2 separate regions of the Homo sapiens genome follow, and region 2 is linked to region 1. Evidence: fine-mapped expression QTL. A gene starts in region 1. The other region holds a variant in brackets. All regions are shown on one strand. Distances are between the middles of the regions.

Region 1 (10,432 bases):
GAATTGTAAAGAGTACAGCTTGATGGAGTTTCATGCACTGATTCTAGTCAGCAAGTCAGTCTCCAGACCAAGAATCACAACTTGCCCAGCATGGAGAAGCCCCCTTGGGCCCCACTGGGGGTGGGTTGTGGCAGTGCCCAGCTTCCCTTGGCTTCAGCCGGTGAATTCCCATCCTGGACCCTTGACCATCATTGGTGACTCTTGGGGGTCTTCTAGTTCATCCTGCTCAGCCCTCTGCTGTCTAGAATGTTCTGGGTTCTTCTTGAGGATTATAGGCTTTTCTAGTGAGGCAGCTTATCCATTCATCTGTATTTGAGTCACTGACTAGGCGTGACAATCCCGTTTTCTTTTTTTTTTTTTTCCTTATGCCAATCCAGTTTTATCTACATGTTGTTTTGCAGAAATTCCTAAAGGTTCCAAGCTTCTCTTGTTAACTTTCTTTTCTCACCAGGGATATACAGACTCTCCTACCCATCCTTCCCATTTTCATATTTATTTTTTCATGTTAATGAGGGCAGGAAGTTTATTGCCTGGGCTGAGTTCATTTATACAGGCTGAGTATGTCTAATGTGAAAATCTGAAATTTGAAACTTTTCGAGTGTTTACATGACACTCAAAGGAAATGCTCATTGGAGCATTTCAGATTTCAGATTTTTGGATTTTGGACATTCATTTGGTAAGTATAAGGCAAATATCCCCAAATCTGAAAAAAAATCATTTTTTTTTCTTTTGGAGGCAGAGTCTTGCTCTGTTGCCCAGGCTGGAGTGCAGTGGCATGATCTTGGCTCACTGCAAGCCCCGCCTCCCAGTTTCAAGTGATTCTCCTGCCTCAGCCTCCTGAGTGGCTGGGTTTACAGGCATGCGCCACGATGCCCAGCTACTTTTTATATTTTTTAGCAGAGATGGGGTTTCACCATGTTGTCCAGGCTGGCCTCAAACTCCTGACCTCAAGTGATCTGCCCGCCTTGGCCTCCCAAAGTGCTGGGATTACAGATGTGAGCCACTGTGCCCAGTCAAAAATCCAAAATTTGAAACTCTTCTGTTCCCAAGCATTTCAGCTAAGGGATACTCCGCCTGTAATAGGAATTCCTGGTGTATTTTGGTAAATAAACCTGTTGGGAAAAAGGTCACAGATTCAGGGCTGTAGTTTTCTTTCAGAACTGACTCTACCATGTTGGGGGAAATGTCTATTAACTTTCTCTTTTTGTGTGTATGTGTTTTTTAAACAAACGATAATGCATCATTTATTAGAGCAGTGGTTCTCACACTTTTTTTGTGGGTGTGGTCTCAGGACGCCTCAAAGTTATTGAGCCTCCTAAAGCATTTTTATTTAAATGATTCTGTTGATTCATATGTATTGTAATAGAAATTGAAACATAAGATGTAAAACCACACGGATATGAAAGTTCCATTAATTAGCTTTCAGAGCAGTGGCATCATCACACATAATGTAGTCTCTGGAAAATTCCACTGTACATCCATGAAAGAGTGAGAGCGAGAGTGTCTGACTTTGTAGACCCTCTGAACTAGTCTCAGGAAACTCCAGGGATTCTCAGACCACACTTTGAGATCTCTTGTGCTGAGGAATGTTTTGTAGGTTTCCTTTTTCATTAAGCTCCTGTTTGACGTTTTGTGTGTACACATGTGATGTGTGTGCAGGTGCGCTGGGAGTTGAGGCAGCGGCACTCCTGAAATGTGTGGGAAATCGCCTGCATGTAGGTGTGCTGTTGCCGGCGCAGAGCGGAGTGTTCAGCAGCCTATGTCACATGCCATCTTTTCTCAGAAGTTATCTTTCATCCTAGTCAGATTTTAAATGAGGGTGAGTCTGTAGTTTTCATCAGATTCTTCTTTTTCTTTCTTTTTTTTTTTTTGAGATGAGTCTCACTCTGTTGCCCAGACTGGAGCCCAGTGGCATGATCTCAGCTCACTGCAACCTCTGCCTCCCCGGTTCAAGCAATTCTCCTGCCTCAACCTCCTGAGTAACTGGGATTACAGGTGCCCGCTACCATACCTGACTAATTTTTTTTTTGTTTGTGTATTTTTAGTGGAGATGGGGTTTCACCATATTGGCCAGGCTGGTCTTGAACTCCTGACCTCAAATGAGCCGCCCACCTCGGCCTCTCAAGGTGCTGGGATTACAGGAGTGAGTCACCGTGTCCAGCCATTTTCATCAGGTTCTTAAAGGAGTCCCCTAATTTCTCACTGTAGCTTAAGGTAGGGGCATACCTTAAAGTTCTTAGAGAGTTGAGAAGTTATTGTGGTTGAAAGAGTTTAAGAGAAACATATCTTATGTAATTCCATATACAAATAAAAATGTTACCTCTCTTTGTGTGTATAAATCCTGTAGGAATACAGGTTTTAGCTGTGCTCCAGTGTGTTTCTTTGCTTAGAGCTGCTTCAAGGCAGGTTTCAGTAAGCAAATGAAGCCATGTGCTCCACATTTTGGTCAATATTGATTAGTTGAATGGAACTTTGCTGCAGTTATTTTATTGAAACTAAGCAATGTGATTGGAGATGCCTTGACTTGAGAGAAACGCGTTTCAGAATTCGCAGTCTGAACGCACGTCATCCCGGGGCCCTCATTTTCTAAAGATTGTCCAGGTTTATCGATAGACTCTAACTGTGCCCCTCTCTTTCAATTGTCCCATAGATTCCCTATAAGGAGCCCCTGCTGGTGCACCAGAACTACCGGGGGCCATCTGCCCAACTGCCCCAGACTCTGGCAGTGGGGCCCCCGATGGCAGTGGGCACCTCCCCGTGAAACCTGCCAAGCTGGACGCCACAGCTCTGCACGACGACACTTTGGCCAACTCCGTGCCCCCTTCGGAGGCATGCAACCATGCAGTCCTAGCCTGCAGCCTGGGCATCCCTGAGGAACACTACATAAGCGAGGCTGTGGAAGATGCTCCCAGCTACAGAGGGTACCGGGATGCCTGCACCATTACTGGTATGGGGGCCCTTTCCCTGCCAGGGAGGAAGGGAGGGAGGTTTCAGTCACTGAGGACTAGGGAAGGAATGCAGCCACATGGGAGGGTCTTGGGGAGGTATGTGGAGAGGAACCACCAAAGTGCAAAAGACTCTGAGCTTTCGGATTGTGAGACCTCCAATCCAGAACCTGTTCTGCCAGTGAACCATTTTGTAACTTGTGTCAGTTGTTGACCTACTATCCTGACTGAGAGGTAGACAGCATTTCACTAAATTGTCATGAAGGTTAAAGATGGTAACATCCAAACCTGAGCAGCAAGCATGGCCCATCACAGGCACTCAGTGTATTGAACCCTTCCTTCTCTCTTTGCACTCAGCTTCTTCAGATATAAGACAGGTGTAGTGGGAATAACATGCACTGTCATTGTGGGATGCAAAAACAGAAAACTACATGGAGTGCCCTTTGTACACCATCAGGATTTGCACAGACATGGATTTTTACAGATACCTGTGTCAGTCATAACTCTCAGTGTCCCAGGTGGTAATCACCTAACATCTGTGCGGGCACTTAGTAGTAGAGCTATTGCTTTTTTATTTTCCCCAAGGAAGCATTGAGACAAGTGCTTGAAGCTAGCACAAGAGAGGGCTCTCAATGGAAATGGTGTAGGATGGTGTGCATAACAGCAGCAAGTGGCAAAATTATAGCTCAATCCAGTTGCATTCATATAGAAGTTTGCTTAATTTCTCATTTTTGTCTGCAGTGTTTGCTTTTGTTTGTCTGTTTGAAGTAATGCCTGATGACAGCTTAATATATGCAAGTTGGCTTCCAGTAGCTTCTCTTGGTTCTGTGTTACCAGTTAAGCCTTGAGGACCTCCTGTGTGTCAGGGGTTTCCTGGATACAGAAAGGCACAGAGAAAGCCGGGGGTCCCAGCCTGGTGCCTAGCTGCTGTGCTAGGCCCCCACACACCTCCTCTCCCTTTTTGTTAAGTGGCCCACATGTGTTGTCCTCCGCTTGTGACTGAGTCCCTCTCCCACTTGCCTGCCCCCTGAAGGACACAGTTCCAACATCTCCCTTTTCTCTACTGCATCATTCTTTTCCCCTTGCACTTGGGTCTTTCTTATTAGTGCAGAAACATGCTATGATCTCCCTCTTCGGAAATAGAATCCTTCTCAGTCCCGTGTTTCCCGCAGGCCAGTGTCTCTGCTCTTCTGTTTGCTTACTCTAGTTTTTCTTTTGTTCTCTCTGGAGTCCACTGCAGGCAGGCTCATGCCCCACCACACTGACAGCCTGGTTCAGTCCAGGGGTCTGTCCTCTGCCTTCACCTTACTTCACTTTTCAGTGGTAGTTCACACTGTTGCCAAGTCCTGTGTCCTGGAAGTACAGTCTTTACTTGGCTTCTGGGTCCCCACACTCTCCCTGTTCTTCTGCCTCAGTGGCTGCGTTTCTTCTTCTCCCAAGCCTGGGAACGTTGAAGGGCCCGGGGCCCAGCCTTTCCGCCTCTTTGCTCTTATGTGTGCACCTGTGCAGCACTTGATCTCACCCAGCACACAGGTTTTAAAATCGCCTTCTGTACTGGCCACTCGGTGGTTTCTGTACTCAGCCTGGCCCTTCCTCCTTAAGGCCAGATGTCTCAGACTGACTCCACATGAGTTTCCACTTAGATGTCTAACAGGCATGTCAAACTCAAATGACCAAAAATGAGCTCCTGGTTTCCACCTGCACCTGCTTTTCTTAGGGTTTTCCCCATCCTTGTAAATGGTGCTTTCATTATTCTAGTTGCTCAGGCCAAGAACCTTGGAGGCATTTGTGATTCTGCCTTTCTGCGATTCATACCCCAGTTTGTCAAGAATTCTGTTGGCTGTATCTTCAGAGTATGTTCAGAATCTACCCAGCATTTACTGTGTCCCAGCCACCCCCATCTCACACCTGGATGACCGCACTGGCCTTCCAGTGGGGCCTCTTACTGCTACCCTTGCCTCCCTAAAATTCTTTCTCCGCTCAACCATGAGAGTTGGCTTTTAATACAATCAGATGGTTTAACTCTCCTCCAAACTTCCAGTGAGCTCCCCTTCTATAGAGACCTGTAAGGAAGGGGCTGAATGACAGGAATCCCTCTTTGCCCCGCTGACCTGCCTCCTCTGTGCCCTCCGTGCTCCAGGTACACTGGCCGCCTCACTTAACCTTGAACTCACCAGGCACATCCAGCCTCAGGGTCTTTGGATTGCCTTAACTCCAGATATCCTTATGACCCCCTCTTCCTTCTCCAAGTGACATTTTATTTGATGCTTTTTGTGACCCCCCCCCAATACAGAGTGATCTGCCTCACCTTTCCCCATCTCCCTTTCCTGTTTAATTTTTTCCCCCAAACTTAACCATCTGCTGAACTACTGTATTTGTGTTTTGTCTCCCAAACTTGCAGTAGACTAAAGTCGCGGAGGGCAAACTCTGTGTCTACTTTGCACACTCCTGAATCCAGTGACTAACGTAGTGCCTGCCTGTGGCCAGCGCTCAGTGAACATTTGTTGGGTGTATCAATTGTGTCAATTTGTGCAGTGAGTACTATTATCCTCTTTGTGTAAGTGAAGAGTCTAAATCTCGAAAGGTTCAGCACCTTGGTGAAACTCCTGAGTGGCAGGAGTTGCATCCAGGTCTGTAGGACCCCAGGGCAAGGGTTCTTTGCTGCCTAAGAATTTAGTCTAGTTGGGGAGACAGATGAGTGAGTAGAAATTGGCTGTACACCGAGGTTAGCACAATGATAAGCACAGCACAGTAGGGCACCAAGGAGGGTGCCAGGCTGAACCTTGGAGGGGAAAGGACAGGAGAAGACCACGAGGGCTTTGTGGAGGAGGCGATGACCCAACCGCATCTACATTTGTCCAAACACATGAATTGATCCTTGGGATTCTAGTGGCATCTGTACCAGTGAAATCCAGGAAGCATCCAGCCTGTTAAAGTGCTTTCACTTTCTTTGAATGTGACAGTGGAGGGTAAAGAAATGGCAGAATGTACCGCTGAAACTTCACAGCTGGGCGTGGTGGCTCACGCCTATGATCCCAGCACTTTGGGAGGCCGAGGCGGGCAGATCACCTGAGGTCAGGAGTTCAAGACCAGCCTGGCCAACATGGTGAAACCCCGTCTCTACTAAAAATATAAAAACTAGCCAGGCATGGTGACGGACGCCTGTAATCTCAGCTACTTGGGAGGCTGAGGCAGAATTGCTTGAACCTAGGAGATGGAGGTTGCAGTGAGCTGACACAGTGCTACTGTACTCTAGCCTTGGCGACAGAGTGAGACTCTCTCAAAAAAACAAAACGAAACAGCAACAACAAAAAACACAACAAAGAAGTGGCAGAATGTAGTGCTGAAACTTCAAACCCTATAGGATGTGGTGACTTGGGGGTTCTTTGTTGGGACCAGAGGAAAGCTGAGAAACAGCTCGGTGCTGTTGTGTTTAGCACTGGCTTGGTAAACAGGAGAGTAAACACAGACACTCTTATGCGTTTAAGGGATGGGCTGTCAGGTGATGGAGAACATGCTCGGATTAAAGTTTTATTAGGCAGTCATTGAAAGGAAGACATTAAATGGAAAAAAGTTCTCCGAGAGACCTAGACTATCCCCAAGAATGCATCTGTGGCCTCCCAGGGCTTTGCCAAGTGCAGTCTCAGGACACTGCTTGGCATTCAGCCCTTGATAAATTCACTCCTCCCCCAGTTCCCAGCAAGCCCTGAGATGAACAGCAGACTTTTTGTTCCACTTTAATTTTTAGGCAAAACCGAATGCCCATCACAAAGCCCCGTTCTCCTTGCTACTCCCCTTCCCCCAACCTAGAGGTATCACATTTTTGGGTGCGTCATTTTCTGTTTGGGGTGGCTTAACAAGATGAGCTGATAGGGTTCCCAGGCTGCCTGGAGTTACATAACCCATTGTGCTTCCAGGACAGCTCACAATCTTAGGATTTGCCCTAACAAGCAAACTCAGAAAACTGCTGAGGAAGGCACGGGAGGGTGGCTGTGCGAGGTACTGCCGGGGCTGAGCTCTCATGGAGGCTCTCTCTGTTCTCTGAAGTGCCTTTGGAGTTTATGTCTGCACATGGCATTGGTTTTTCAATTCGGGCAGCCCGTCAGGGCTCAGCCTCTGCCAGGACTCTGCCACGGCAAGCTCATTCGGACAAACGCCTGTGGTAAGTTTGTTTGCCAGGTCTGTCTGCTGTCTGTTTTCTTTGTGGTGTGGTCGGAAAGGAGAAAAGACCACAGGAGAAGCTGTCTCTCTCTTGCTCCGTGCTGCTTGGGAGGTTGTTCATGGTCATGTGGTAGAGAAATTGCCATGTTGAATGATAGGCAGAGCAAAGGGACTTCAGAGACACAACTACTGCCCTCACCACCCCCCCATCTCCCGTTCCCAGGTCCCCTTGTCCCCTTGCCCAGGCTCAGTAGGTGCAAGTGACACTTGCAGGGCATGAGCACAGGGCTGAGTTGAGCCCAGACCCCCTGCACTGCCACTCCCTTTCCCTTCACAGTTCTCTGCAGTGGGTGGACAGGGTTTCTAAGGCCTCCTCCGCCTCTCCAGCTCTGATTTCTCTAATCCTATGTCTTGTCTTTATCCTGATTTCTTAGATGCTAACCTGGTATCTTGGGTCAGCAAGGAGTTTTTCAGAAGGTGAAGGACAGAGTTAGACTGTCTCCCTCCCTCTCTCCCGTTTCCCTCTCTTCCACCCTCCCTTTCTTTTTTGTCCTTTACTAAATGCTTGGGCCTGGGACTCGGATCCACACCCCAGTGATGGAGGGCTTGCTAATCAGATCTGCTGTGGCTTGTGTCTCTTGCTGTGGGGCTGACACCTCTCACTTCCTCTAAGCTGGTCAGAGTCCAGTGGTTGATGACCCATCTGGTTTCTGTCCTGTCTACACGCTGCTTCCTGAGAGCTGTCTGGGCCAGAAAACAGTTAATTCCTGAGAGAAGTGAGCTCCTGTTCCATTCCAGTCAGTTTTAGGCTTTAAAACATGTAAATCTTATTGAATAAGCCTAAAGACACTTCAAACATGCATCTTACTGAGGCAATCGTACTTATTTTTGTGTGTTGAAGCAGCGTGCACCCAGGGCCAGGTTTTTACTGGGGTTTATGTTAATTCCTGGGGTCAGAGAGAGGACTGGTCCTGCCCTCAGAGCACAGAGGTGGGCCAGGGTGTAAAGGAGAAGCTGTAAACCGAGTGAGAATTGCCTAGGAAAAATCTGCTAACAGGAGTAGCCCTGCCTGGGAGGACTCTTCATCAAAGGGCCATGGCTTAGAATTTGTTCCTTTTATTTTGTTGTGTTGTGTTGTGTTGTGTTGTGTTGTGTTATGTTATGTTATGTTATGTTATGTTATGTTATGTTATGTTATGTTATGTTATGTTATTTCGTGACTCACTGTATTGCCCAGGCTGGTTTTGAATTCCTGGGCTCAAGTGATCCCCCTGCCTCGGCCTCCCAAAGTGCTGGGATTACAGGCGTGAGCCACCATGCCTGACCCAGGATCTTTTCCTTTTCTATCACTGATTTAAGCCATAAAACTTGATGTCTTATCCTCTGAAAACATGCTCAAATAAAACATTATGGAATTCTTACACATCTTATTAATTAAATTTAAGGCCTTGTCAATTTCTCTCTAGTATAATTTTTATTTGTGTTTTCTATTGAAAATTTATAATCTAAATGGGTCTTTTATTTGGCTATATTAATGAAACAGAAAAGAATGGACAGTGAAATATATATCCCTTTTACAACAGAGTGAGAAAATGTAAATTACAATGTAGGGAATAACACATATTTTCTAAATGTGTAATTTAGAAGTTTTTTTTTTTCTCCTTCTCTTAGTGGAATCTCCTTTATTTCACAGTTGATTTGTTTTTGCAGATGGAATGCAGAAAGGGGCCCTGTTATGCTAATTTCTAGAGAGAGCATTTGATCTTTGCAAAACCACAGAAACATTCACCTCTGCCTTTTAAATATGCTATAAATGATTTGGGGGCCACCAGCTAATCTTCCTACCCTTCAGTTCCCTTATGACTAGGTGAGTAGGTAGAATATTTATCACAAGGTTTTTGACATAAATTGTGAAATTTATTTAAAATGTCATTTGTAAGTTTTTTTCCATGTGATTTTGGGGCCATAGTTCTCAAGTATTTGATATATTTTTATCTTCTCCTAACTGGTTTTAGTTCTGCACTTGAAACAAATTTTTTTCTCTCCTGTCCTCTTTTCTCTCCCCTCTCTTCTCTCTTCTCTTTTTTCTCCCCTTCCCTTCCCTTCCCTCCCCTCCCCTCCCCTCCCCTCCCCTCCCCTCCCCTCCCCTTCCTTTTTTTTTTTACAGAGTCTCACTTCTATCACCCAGGCTGGAGTGCAGTGGCATGATCTTGGCTCACTACAACCTCCACCTCCCAGGTTCAAGCAGTTCTCATCCCTCAACCTCCTGAATAGCTGGGATTACAGGCATGCGCCACCACGCCCAGCTATTTTTTTGTATTTTTAGTAGAGACAGGGTTTTGCCATGTTGCCCAGGCTGATCCCAAACTCCTGAGCTCAGGCAGTCCGCCTGCCTAGGCCTCCCAGAGTACTAGGATTACAGGCGTGAGCCGCCGTGCCTGGCCGAAACAAGCTTTTCATGTATATAATGTATCAATCTTTGTTCACCCCAAACTATTTTTGGAAGCTGGCAAATAATAAATTATAATAGGAAAAAAAAATGGCAGTTTTTGGCAGAGTGGCCAGGTATGGGCCTCGGCACCTTCCTGCTCAGCCAAGGTCTGTTGTAGGAACGTTGACTGGGAGTGACTGAGAGGATTCAGGGTGCACCAATGCCAGGCTCAGGCTGAGCAGCTGGGTTGGTGTGTGAGTCTGGGACTCATGGCCCCAGGGGGAACTTTGGAGTCAGAAACTTCTCTGTTTTCACTGAGCCCTGATCTCTCATAAACACTGAAAAACTTGAGCAAGTCAGGCTGAAACTATCAGGAGCTGAAACTTTATTTTACTTTTAGAGTCAGAGTCTCACTCTGTCACATAGGCTGGAGTGCAGTGGTGCAGTGCAGTCATGGTGTATTGCAATCTTGAACTCCTGGGCTCAAGTGACTCTCCCACGTCCACCTCCCAAGTAGCTGCGACTATGGGCTGGAGCCACCGTGCCTGGCTATTTTTTTTTGGTAGCAGTGGGATCTTGCTGTGTTGACCAGGCTGGTCTTGAACTTCTGGCCTCAAGTGATCCTACCACCTTAGCTTTCCAAAGTGTTGGAATTATAGGTATGAGCCCCAGTGCCCGGCAAAGGTGTAACTTTATAACTAGATCTGGAAGAAATATAATGTTATAAATCCTGTTCTAGGTTTCTCTAGAGAAACAGAGCCAATAGGAGAAACATATATCGAAATGTATTACAAGGAATTGTGTTACTTGATGGTGGAGGCTGACAAGTCCAAGATGTGCAGTTGGCAAGCTGGAGGCCTGGGAGACCCAATGGTATAGTTGCAGTCCAAAGGCT
Region 2 (10,805 bases), 82 kb before region 1:
GAAAAAATGGACAGAATTGAGACAGTGACGATAAGCAATTCTTTCAAATAGCTTTGTTATGAAGGATGACAAAAAACAGGGTGGCATCTAGAGGTGGAAGTAAAGTCAAGAGAGTTTTTTTCTTCTATTCAAGATGGAAGAAATATAGGGCAGGCATGGTGGCTCAAGTCTGTAATCCCAGCACTTTGGGAGGCTGAGGCTGGTGGATCACTTGTGGCCAGAAGTTCGAGACCAGCCTGGCCAACACAGTGAAACCCCATCCCTACCAAAAAATACAAAAATTTGCCTGGTGTGGTGGCAGGCACCAACTACTTGGGAGGCTGAGGCAGGAGAATCACTTGAACCCAGGAGGCGGAGGTTGCAGTGTCATGCCGCTACATTCCAGCCTGCGTGACAGAGTAAGAGTCTGTCTCAAAAAAAAAAAAAAAAAAAGACAGAAGAAATAACTATGTTTGTATGCTGGTGAGAATGCCCCAGTAGAGAGGAAAAAAACTGATGATGGAGGAAGGAGGGGAGAAAATTGTAATGATATACCCAAGCAGGTATATTAGTTTTCTAGGGCCACCATAACAGATTGCCACAAATTTGGTGGCTTAAAACAACAAAAACTTACTCTCTCAGAATTCTAGAAGCCAGAAATCTGAACTCAAGATGTTAGCAGAGATGTACTCCCTCTGTAGGCTCTAGGGGAAAATTTTTTCCTTGCCTCTTCTGGCTTCTGGCAGCTGCTGGCATTCCTTGGCTTGTGGATGCATCTCTCTCTTTTCTGCCTTCACATTGGCTTCTCCTCTGTGTGCGTTCTACTCTTCTGTCTGTTTTAAATCTCCTTCTGCTTTTCTCTTACTAGGACACTGTCATTGGATTTAGGGCCTCCCCAGGTAACCTAGGATGATCTCATCTCAAGATCATTAACTTAATGACAGGTGTGGTGGCTCACACCCGTAATCTCAGAACTTTGGGAAGCTAAGGTGGGCGGGTCACCTGAGGTCAGCAGTTTGAGACCAGCCTGGCCAACATGGTGAAACCCCATCTCTACTACTAAAAATACAAAAATTAGCCAGATGTTGGTGGCAGGCGCCTGTAATTCCAGCTACTCTGGAGACTGAGGCAGGAGAATCGCTTGAACCTGGGAGGCAGAGGTTGCAGTGGGCCGAGATCGTGCCACTGTATTCCAGCCTGGGTGACAGAGTGAGACTTCATTCCCCCCGCAAAAAAAAAAATTTAATGACATCTGCAAATCCCCTTTTCCCAAATAAGGTCACATTCATAGGTTCTGGATATTAGGACCTGAAATACATTTTGGGGGACCACCATTCACCCTAATGCAGTAGGTGAGAAGGAATGGGGTCTACTTCACACGGGAGGAGTCGGCTTTTGATGGGAGCAGGGATAATTCATCACTAATTTCAGTAGGGTGAATAGATGATTTGGTCCCAGTCACAACTAGGTGGGTAGACATAGTGGTGGGAGCTTGTAGAAGTTTTTTTGGGCTGGGCATGGTGGCTCACGCCTGTAATCCCAGCACTTTGGGAGTCCAAGCAGGGTGGATCACCTGAGGTCGGGAGTTCGAGACCAGTGTGACTAACATGGAGAAACCTTGTCTCTACTAAAAATACAAAAAAAATTATCCAGGCGTGGTGGCACATGCTTGTAATCCCAGCTACTCGGGAGGCTGAGGCAGGAAAATCGCTTGAACCTGGGAGGTGGAGATTGCGGTGAGCCGAGATCGCGCCATTGCACTCCAGCCTGGGCAACAAGAGCAAAACTCCGTCAAACAAACAAACAAAAAACAAGTTCGTTTGATTCCTTCCATTTCCTCAGTGAGATAAGAAACAAAGTCACCATCTGACAGTGAAGATGGGGAGGGAGTTGCTAGAACTTGGATATGAAAAGAAAAAATGTGTTGTAGTTTTCATGAAGAGTGGGAGAATGACTGGATTAGAGAGTTATTAATTGTTCAGCAGCAGTAAAGCTCACCTGAGATTCATGGTCATAATTTTTTTTTTTTTTTCTGAGACAGAGTCTCACTCTGTTGCCCAGGCTGGAGTGCAGTGGTGCAATCTCAGCTCACTGCAACCTCCATCTCCTGGGTTCAAGTGATTCTCCTGCCTCAGCCTCCCGAGTAGCTGGGACTACAGGCATGTGCCACCACACCCAGCTAATTTTTGTATTTTTAGTAGAGAGGGGGTTTCACCATGTTGATGAGGCTGGTTTTGAACTCCTGACCTAAAGTGATCCACCTGCCTCGGCCTCCCAAAGTGCTGGGATTACAGGTGTGAGCCACTGCACCTGGCCTAAAACAGGTAGATTTTATTTGCAATCCAGATTTCTGACTTCTTTTGAAAATCTAGGAGATAAGACAACATTGGGTTTGCATTTAGACATCGGAACAATTGTTAGAGCTCAGAGGTGGCTACCCAATAAAGACAGAGAAAGCCAGGTGTGGTGGCTCATGCCTGTAATCCCAGCACTTTGGGAGGCCGAGATGGGTGGATCACAAGGTCAGGAGATCAAGACCATCCTGGCTAACACGGTGAAACCCCATCTACACTAAAAATACAAAAAATTAGCCTGTAGTCCCAGCTACTAGGGAGGCTGAGGCAGGAGAATGGCGTGAACCTGGGAGGTGGAGCTTGCAGTTTGCCAAGATCGCGCCACTGCACTCCAGCTTGGGCGACAGAGCAAGACTCTGTCTCAAAAAAAAAAAAAAAAAAAGTGTGGTGGAGCAGATGGCTAAAGAGATGGATGGGGGCCAGTGAAGAATACTGTTCCCTGAGTGAAAGTTTGGGCTATACCCCTAGGTCACTAGGGCGTTGTTGAAGAGTTTACAGCACAAGAATGATAGCATCTGGTTTGTCTGAGGAAAGTAGATGGATTCAAGGCAAAAGACCAGATGCTGTAAAGAAGTTATTGTTATTAATTCATGGTTTTTCTTATGTCTAAAAAATCCATGCACAATAAGTCTGGTTTATAAACACAAGTCTTCATGTCTTTTTTTTTTTTTTTTTTGAGACAGGGTCTGGCGCTGTCACCCAGCCTGGAGTGTAGTGGCGCAATCTCGGCTCACTGCAACCTCTGCCTCCCAGGCTCAAGCTGTCTTTCCACCTCAGCTTCCTGAGTAGCTGGGACTAAAGGTGCATGTCACCATGCCCAACTAATTTTTTTGTATTTTTTAGTAGAGACGGGGTTTTTCCATGTTGCCCAGGCTGGTCTCGAACTCCTGAGCTCAAGCAATCCACCTGCCACAGCCTCCCAAAGTGGTGGGATTACAGGCTTGAGCCACCATGCCCAGCCCCTCATGTCTTAATCCTAGAATTCTTTTCCCGTGCCATTCCTCTCCTCTTCATTCTTCCCATTACCCAAGACTGAGGTTGACTCTCTTTTACTTCGCAGAGACAAAAGCAAAGTGTTTAATCAGTCATATGGGGCTAGCAGCCTGACTTTTTCAATAGTTTATGACTGTATACGTTAATTCACTTATCCAAGGGTCAGTTTCCTTATCTATAAACTGCAGATAATAGCTGTCTCATAGAGTTGCTGTCAGAATGAAGGAACTGATGTTACTAAAGCACTTAGCACATGGCTGGGTGCAGTGGCTCACACCTGTAATCCTAGCACTTTGGAGGCCAAGGCAAGAGTATCACCTGAGGTCAAGAGCTCGAGACCAGCCTGGCAAACATGGCAAAACTCCATTTCTACTAAAAATACAAAAATTAGCTGGGCATGGTGGCGCACACACGCCTGTAGTCCCAGCTACTCAGGAGGCTGAGGCAAGAGGATTGCTTGAACCCTGGAGGCCGAGGTTGCAGTAAGCTGAGATCTTGCCACTGCACTCTGGCCTGGGTGATAGAATAAGACTCTGTCTCAAAAATAAATAAATAAATAAAATAAAAATTAAAAAAATAAAGCACTTAGTGCAGTGCTACTTAGCACAGTGCTTGGTGCAAACTGTGCTCAATAAATGTGAGATTAAAATCTGGCATAAAATATTCTATGATGGCTGGGCACGGTGGCTCCTAGCTATAATCCCAGCACTTTGGGAGGCAAAGGTAGAGGATCACGAGGCCAGAAGTTCAAAACCAGCCTGTGCAACATAGTGAGACATGTGCCCCCTAATCTCTACCCCCCCTCAAAAAAAATTAACTGGGCTTGGTGGCATGCACCTGTAGTCTCAGCTACCTGGGAGGATGAGGCAGTAAGATCGCTTGAGCCCAGGAGTTTGAGGCTGCAGTGAGTGATCATAGCACCACTGTACTCCAGCCTGGGTGCCAGAGCAAGACACCATCTCTAAGAAAAAAAAAAGGGGGGTGGCAGCGCAGTGAGCGAGACACCGTCTCTAAGAAAAAAAAAAGGGGGAGCCGAATGTTGTGGCTCATGCCTGTAATCCCAGCACTTTGGGAGGCTGAGGTGGGCGGATCACTTGAGGCCAGGAGTTCGAGACCAGCCTGGCCAACATGGTGAGACCCCCATCGCTACTAAAAATACAAAAATTAGCCGGGCACGGTGGCATGTGCCTGTAATCCAAGCTACTCGGGAGGCTGAGGCAGGAGAATTGCTTGAACCCGGGAGGTGGAGGTTGCAGTGAACTGAGATCGTACCACTGCACTCTAGCCTGGGCAATAGAGCAAGACCCTGTCTCAAAAAAAAAAAAAAAAAAAAGAGATTTCAGGATAATGTGCATGTGGATGAAACATAATTGGACTCTGCTCTCCTTCTGAAATGGTGACAGGTTCAAGCTCTTTTCTTAGAGTATGTATGTGTTTGGGGTGATTATAGATGAATACCCCACAATCATGTGGGGTGCTCTCAGTTCAATTCAAGCTGATACTTTGTTTGTTGTAATTGTTCCATTTCCTACACATGTAATAATAGAAAACATTTTTCCCCTTTCCCTCACACACTAATTGTAAGATTGTCTGAGAGTTTTTTTTTTTTTCTTTTAGACAGGGTCTTGCTCTGTCGCCCAGGCTGGAATGTAGTGGTGCAATCATGGCTCACTGAAGCCTCTACTTCCCATGCTCAAGCAATCCTCCCACCTCAGCCTCCTGAGTAGCTGGGACCACAGGCATGCACCACCACACCTAGCCAATTAAAAAAAATTGTAGAGACAAGGTCACCCTATGTTGCCCAGGCTAGAAATATTGATTTTGTTTGTTTTGTTTGGTTTGGTTTGGTTTTTGAGAAGGAGTCTCACTCTGTCGCCCAGGCTGGAGTGCAGTGGCACGATCTTGGCTCACTGCAAGCTCCGCCTCCCGTGTTCAC[G/A]CCATTCTCCTGCCTCAGCCTCCCGAGTAGCTGGGACTACAGGTGCCCGCCACCACGCCTGGCTAATTTTTTGTATTTTTGGTAGAGACAGGTTTCACCGTGTTAGCCAGGATGGTCTGGATCTCCTGACCTCGTGATCCGCCCGCCTCGGCCTCCCAAAGTGCTGGGATTACAGGCGTGAGCCACCGCACCCGGCCTAGAAATATTGGTTTTAATTAACCTTCAGCTATGGAACCCGATAGTCTACCAATTGCCATTTTTGAACCCATTTATGTTACAGTGGGTTTTAGCATATTCCTGAAGAATTACTGGTGGCAGTAGTGGTGGTAGAGGAGATGCTGTGGCAGCTGACCCTTCTGTGCTGGTCTTGATGTGGTCTGGTATTCACACCCTCCACAGCCAGCAGTGTGGAGGTTTTTGATTATCCACTTGAGTTCATCCTCCACACAGCGGCTAGAAGGAGGTTTTTAGAAAGTGAATGTGACCATGTCAGTCTTACCTAAAACTCTTTACTCCTTACCAGAACCATGAAGTCTCATTGCCTGGCTTTTCCCTGAAACCCCACCATGGCTCCAGCCATCGAGGGCCTTTCCCACTTCTGGGTCTGATCTTGCCCCTCCACTTTGCATGGTTGGTTCCTGTTCCTCCTTTGGGTCTCAGCTTAAGTGTTAGCGCCTTAGATCTTCCTCAACCAACTGATTTATCATAAACCCCCTTCTTATCCTACTTACAGCACCTGCATCTTTTTCTTCATAGCACTTTTCACAAACTATTTTTTTTTTGTTTGTTTTTTTGAGACAGAGTCTCACTCTGCCACCCAGGCTGAAGTGCAGTGGTGCGATCTTGGCTCAATGCAATCTCTACCTCCCGGGTTCAAATGATCCTCTCACCTCAGCCTCCCGAGTAGCTGGGATTACAGACGCACACCACCACGCCTGGCTAATTTTTGTATTTTTAGTAGAGACAGGGGTTTCACCATGTTGGTCAGGCTGATCTCAAACTCCTGACCTCAAGTGATCTGCCTGCCTTGGCCTCCCAAAGTGCTGGGATTACAGGCGTGAGCCACCATGCCTGGCCTTCACAAACTAATTAAATATGTATATGTGTATCACATTATCTGACTCCTCTCCTGGACAGAAAGGTCCATTAGGGCTAGGAATATACCCGTTTTTTTTTTCTTTTTTGACACTGGGTATCCTTCTGTCACCCAGGCTGGAATGCAGTGGCACAATCATGGCTCACTGCAGCCTAGACCTCCTGGGATCAAGCAGTCCTCCCACCTCAGGCTCCAAAGTAGCTGGGACCACAGGCACATGTCACTATCCCTGACTAGTTTTTTGATTTTTTTGTAGAGACAGGGCCTCCCTATTTTGCCCAGGCTGAGGAATGCATCTGTTTTACCCACTACTCTATCACCCTAGCCTAGTCCAACAGACACAGGCTGGGCATGGCGGTGCACTCCTGTAATCCCAGCGCTTTGGGAATCTCAGGTGGGAGAATTGCTTGAGCTCAGGAGTTGGAGACCAGCCTGAGCAACACAGCAAGACCTCGTCTCTAAAAAAAATAAAAACAAAAACCAAAAAAAATAGACACACACGCAAAACTGTCAATATATGACTTATGGATCTACTTTTTACAGTATTTCATTCATTCTTTTTTTTTTTTTTGAGATGGAGTCTCGCTCTGTCGCCCAGGCTGGAGTGCAGTGGTGCGATCTTGACTCATTGCAACCTCCGTCTCCCTGGTTCAAGAGCTTTTCCTGCCTTGGCCTCCCGAGTAGCTGGAACTACAGGCATGTGCCACCACTCCCAGCTAATTTGTTTTGTATTTTTAGTAGAGACGGGGTTTCACCATGTTAACCAGGTCGGTCTGGAACTCCGGACCTTAGGTGATCTGCCCGACTCGGACTCCCACAGTGCTAGGATTACAGGTGTGAGCCACCTCGTCCCGCCCTTTTTTTTTTTTCTTTTTGTTTTTCTTTTTTTTCTGAGACAGAGTCTCGTTCTGTCGCCCAGGCTGGAGTGCAACTGCATGATCTCTGCTCACTGCAACCTCTGCCTCCTGGGTTCAAATGATTCTCCTGCCTCAGCCTCCCAAGTAGCTGGGATTACAGACATGCACCACCATGCCAGCTAATTTTGTATTTTTAGTAGAAACGGGGTTTCACCCTGTTGGCCAGGCTGGTCTTCAACAGAAGTTGAAGTGATCCTCCTCAAGTGATCTGCCTGCCTTGGCCTCCCAAAATGCTGGGATTACAGGCATGAGCCACCGCACCCAGACATTCTTTCTGTATCTATTGACGGGGCATCTATGAGTCAGGCACTGTTGTTGGTGCTGGGACTGCAGCAATGAATAAAGCTGGTGTCAGGCATCTTTTATATATGTCCCATGTTGTATCTTAGTTAGCTTTTTTTGCTCAGCATCTACTTTTTTTTTTTTTTTTGAGACAAGAGTTTTGCTCTGTTGCTCAGGCTGCAGTGCCATCGTTCAGTTATAGTTCACTGCAGTCTTGAGTTCAGGGGTTCATGCAATCCTCCTGCTTCAGCCTCTTGAGTAACTGGAACTACAGGCATATACCTTCATACTTCCATAGCCAATTTTTAAATTTTTCTTTTGTAGAGATGGGGTCTTGCTATGTTGCTTAGGCTGGCCTTGAACTCTGAGGCTCAAGTGATCCACCCACCTTGGCCTCCCAAAATGCTGAGATTACAGGTGTGAGCCACCACTCCTGAACTCAGCATCAAGTTGGCCAATGGGAGATAGGAACTGGTGGCTAAATATTTCCTCCTCTGTCTTACATTCTGCGCAGTTCCTCAGGGGGCCTCAGTGGGACTAAGCTCCAGTTGTTTACAGAAATTTTATATCCTTCAATAGGCTTTCTTTCTTTCCTGTTTCATTCTTTCTGGTCCCAATTTCTTTTTCTACCCATATCCTACGGGATCATTTTCCAGAAGAAAGTATCTGCCCATGAGTCCTTCTCCAATGTTGCTTTTGGGGGGAACCCCAGCTAATATAGCTAGCCTTTTAATTGCTTTTGTTGGGTCACTTTCAACATTTCCACCTTGGGTCCCTGGATGCATTCTGGGTTCCTAATGGGTAGGGATCAGATATTCTATTTTGTATTTTCCCACAGTTACTAACGAGGGCCTGGCAAATGCAAGTAAACATAGATTAATTTCGATTTGATTCAACAAAAGGAAAGAATACAGTGGCTATCTGTGGCTCAAGGGAAGCCAGTTGCCTCTGTTGCAGCTACTTCTGCCTCATGCTGGATGAAGGGAGGACTTACCAGGGCAATTACTGTTTTCCTTTCTTGTATCCATTCTGCTTCCCTCCCAGGTTCCTGTTCCACTGGCTTCCAGCAGCAGCAGGTCAGCAGCTGCTCCAAGTAGTTCATCAGCTCAGTCAGGCCCAGAACTGGGGCTGTCACTGGGGCCCCGCCTGCCATCTGCTTCCTCCAAGCTGAGAGTAGGAGAGGAAAACTGGTCCCTACTCCTCAGGGGCAGAATCCACATGCCTGTCATCTGGCACTACAGAACAAATCAGGGACTCCAAAGAATGAATGACTTCAAAATTTTCTACCAGCCTTAACTGAATCTCATAGATATAGGGAGTGACAGACAGCTGGTAAAGGTGTAAAGAAAGTAGAACATATTTGGCAGACAAGCAGTAGTTAACGGGTCTACCGCTAATTTGATGCTCCTGTGGACACACACTACTTTTCTGCCCACAGTTTCCAGAAAATGAGTAGGTTGGACTAGATGATCTCAAAGAACCCCCAGCTCTAGGATTGTTAAATTACAGAACTGGAAGGAATCTGATCGGTCAGTTATACTTCAAATAGTCTAATTTTTTTTTTTTCTTGAAAGCCTTCACTGTTGGTAACAGCACCATGTCTATTCTAGATCCACTATGAGAGCTCCAGCATATCTGCTCTGGCATGCTCCCTGATGGGCATGCCCATTTACATACAGTTTTTTTGTAATTAAAAATGATTTTTTTTGTAATTAAAAATTGCATTGAGATAATGGTAGATTCACATTCATTTCTAAGAAATAATATATTTGGGCCAGGTGCGGTGGCTCATGCCTGTAATCCCAGCACTTTGGGAGGCTGGGGCAGGTGGATCACCTGAGGTCAGGAGCTCGAGACCAGCCTGACCAACATGGTGAAACCCCATCCCTACTAAAAATGCAAAAATTAGCCAGGCATGGTGGTGCACGCCTGTAATCCCAGCTACTCAGGAGGCTGAGGCAGGAGAATTCCCTGAACCTGGGAGGTGGAGGTTGCAGTGAACTGAGATTGTGCCATTGCACTCCAGGCTGGGCAACAAGAGCAAAACTCCGTCTTGGGAAAAAAAAAATACACACACACACACACATATATATATTTGGCCTAGTTTCCCCCAATGACAACATTTGCAAAACCTTAATATGATATCATAACTAGGATATTGACATTGATACAATTTACCTATCTTATTCAGATTTTCCCAGTTTTACTTGTACTCATTTGTGTGTATATTAAGTTCTAGATAATTTTATCACCTGTACTACCATACTCAAGATGTTTAACAGTTCCAAATTCACAAGGATCCCTTGTGTTGCCCTTTTATATCATACCTGCTTTCTTTCCACCTTACTTCATTCCCCAACTTGATGGATTTTTCCAAATCTTTTTATTTGGAAATAAGTTCAAACTTACAGAAATGTTCAAGTACACTCTATATGCTGATTCACTGATAATATGCACCTTACCTTTATTGCCCACTTGGCTTTATCATTTTTTCCTATCAAGATTTTTTTTCCCCTGAATCATTTGAAGGTAAGCTGCATACATTATGACCTTTACCCTTTCAAGATACTTTAGTGTGTATTTCCCAAGAATTAGATATTCTTGTACATAATTACAGTGGAAGTTATCAACATCAGTACATTTAACATTGATCCAATACTTTAATCTCTTACATGGATTCTGATTTTGTCAGCTGGAATGTCCGTGATGTATTTCCCCTCCTCTAGCACAGGATGCAGTCTAGGATCAGGCATGGCATTTAGCTGCCCTGACTCTTTTGCACCCTTTAATCTGGAACATTTCCCAAGCTTTCTTTTGATTTTAATGACCTTGACATTTTTGAATAATACAGACCCTTCCTCTTTTTAATAGATGTTCCTCATTTTGGGTTTGTCCGATGTTTCACTATCATGATTCAGGTTATGCATTGTCCCCAGGAATACTGCATAGCTGATGTGGACATGATATCCATCTGCTCTCATTGGTGATGTAAATTTTGATCACCTGGTTAAGATGCTGTCTGCCTGCCTCTTTGTATAGTTACTATTTCCGCTTTTGCTACTAACAGGTCTAAACCATCTATGGGGAGACACATCAACCCAGACAAATATCTGCCAGCCAGTAACAGCCCCCTAGAGTAAGCATTCATGGATGATTCTTGCCTGAGCCAATCTTCACTATACACTTGATGATCTCTTCAAGTCAAGTCTATGCCAGTATGAGAAATCAGGTTTTGCAGGGTTTAGTTT

Evidence for each region. PIP is the estimated chance that this variant, and not a neighbour inherited with it, causes the effect.
Region 2: its variant is fine-mapped to the expression of TRAK1 in whole blood (TOPMed, PIP above 0.99).

The regions. Positions count from the first base shown.
Region 1 is chr3:42,084,454-42,094,885 of GRCh38, forward strand. TRAK1 (trafficking kinesin protein 1) reads left to right here and starts at 6,904. Exons shown (of 16, transcript NM_001042646.3): 1 at 6,904-7,107. The coding sequence starts at 7,017.
Region 2 is chr3:42,002,097-42,012,901 of GRCh38, forward strand. LOC107986077 (a long non-coding RNA gene) reads right to left here. Exons shown (of 2, transcript XR_001740668.2): 2 at 9,922-10,805. Among named protein-coding and RNA genes, the nearest start is that of ULK4, 45 kb to the left of the region's middle. The variant G/A (reference allele first, on the strand shown) is at 5,263.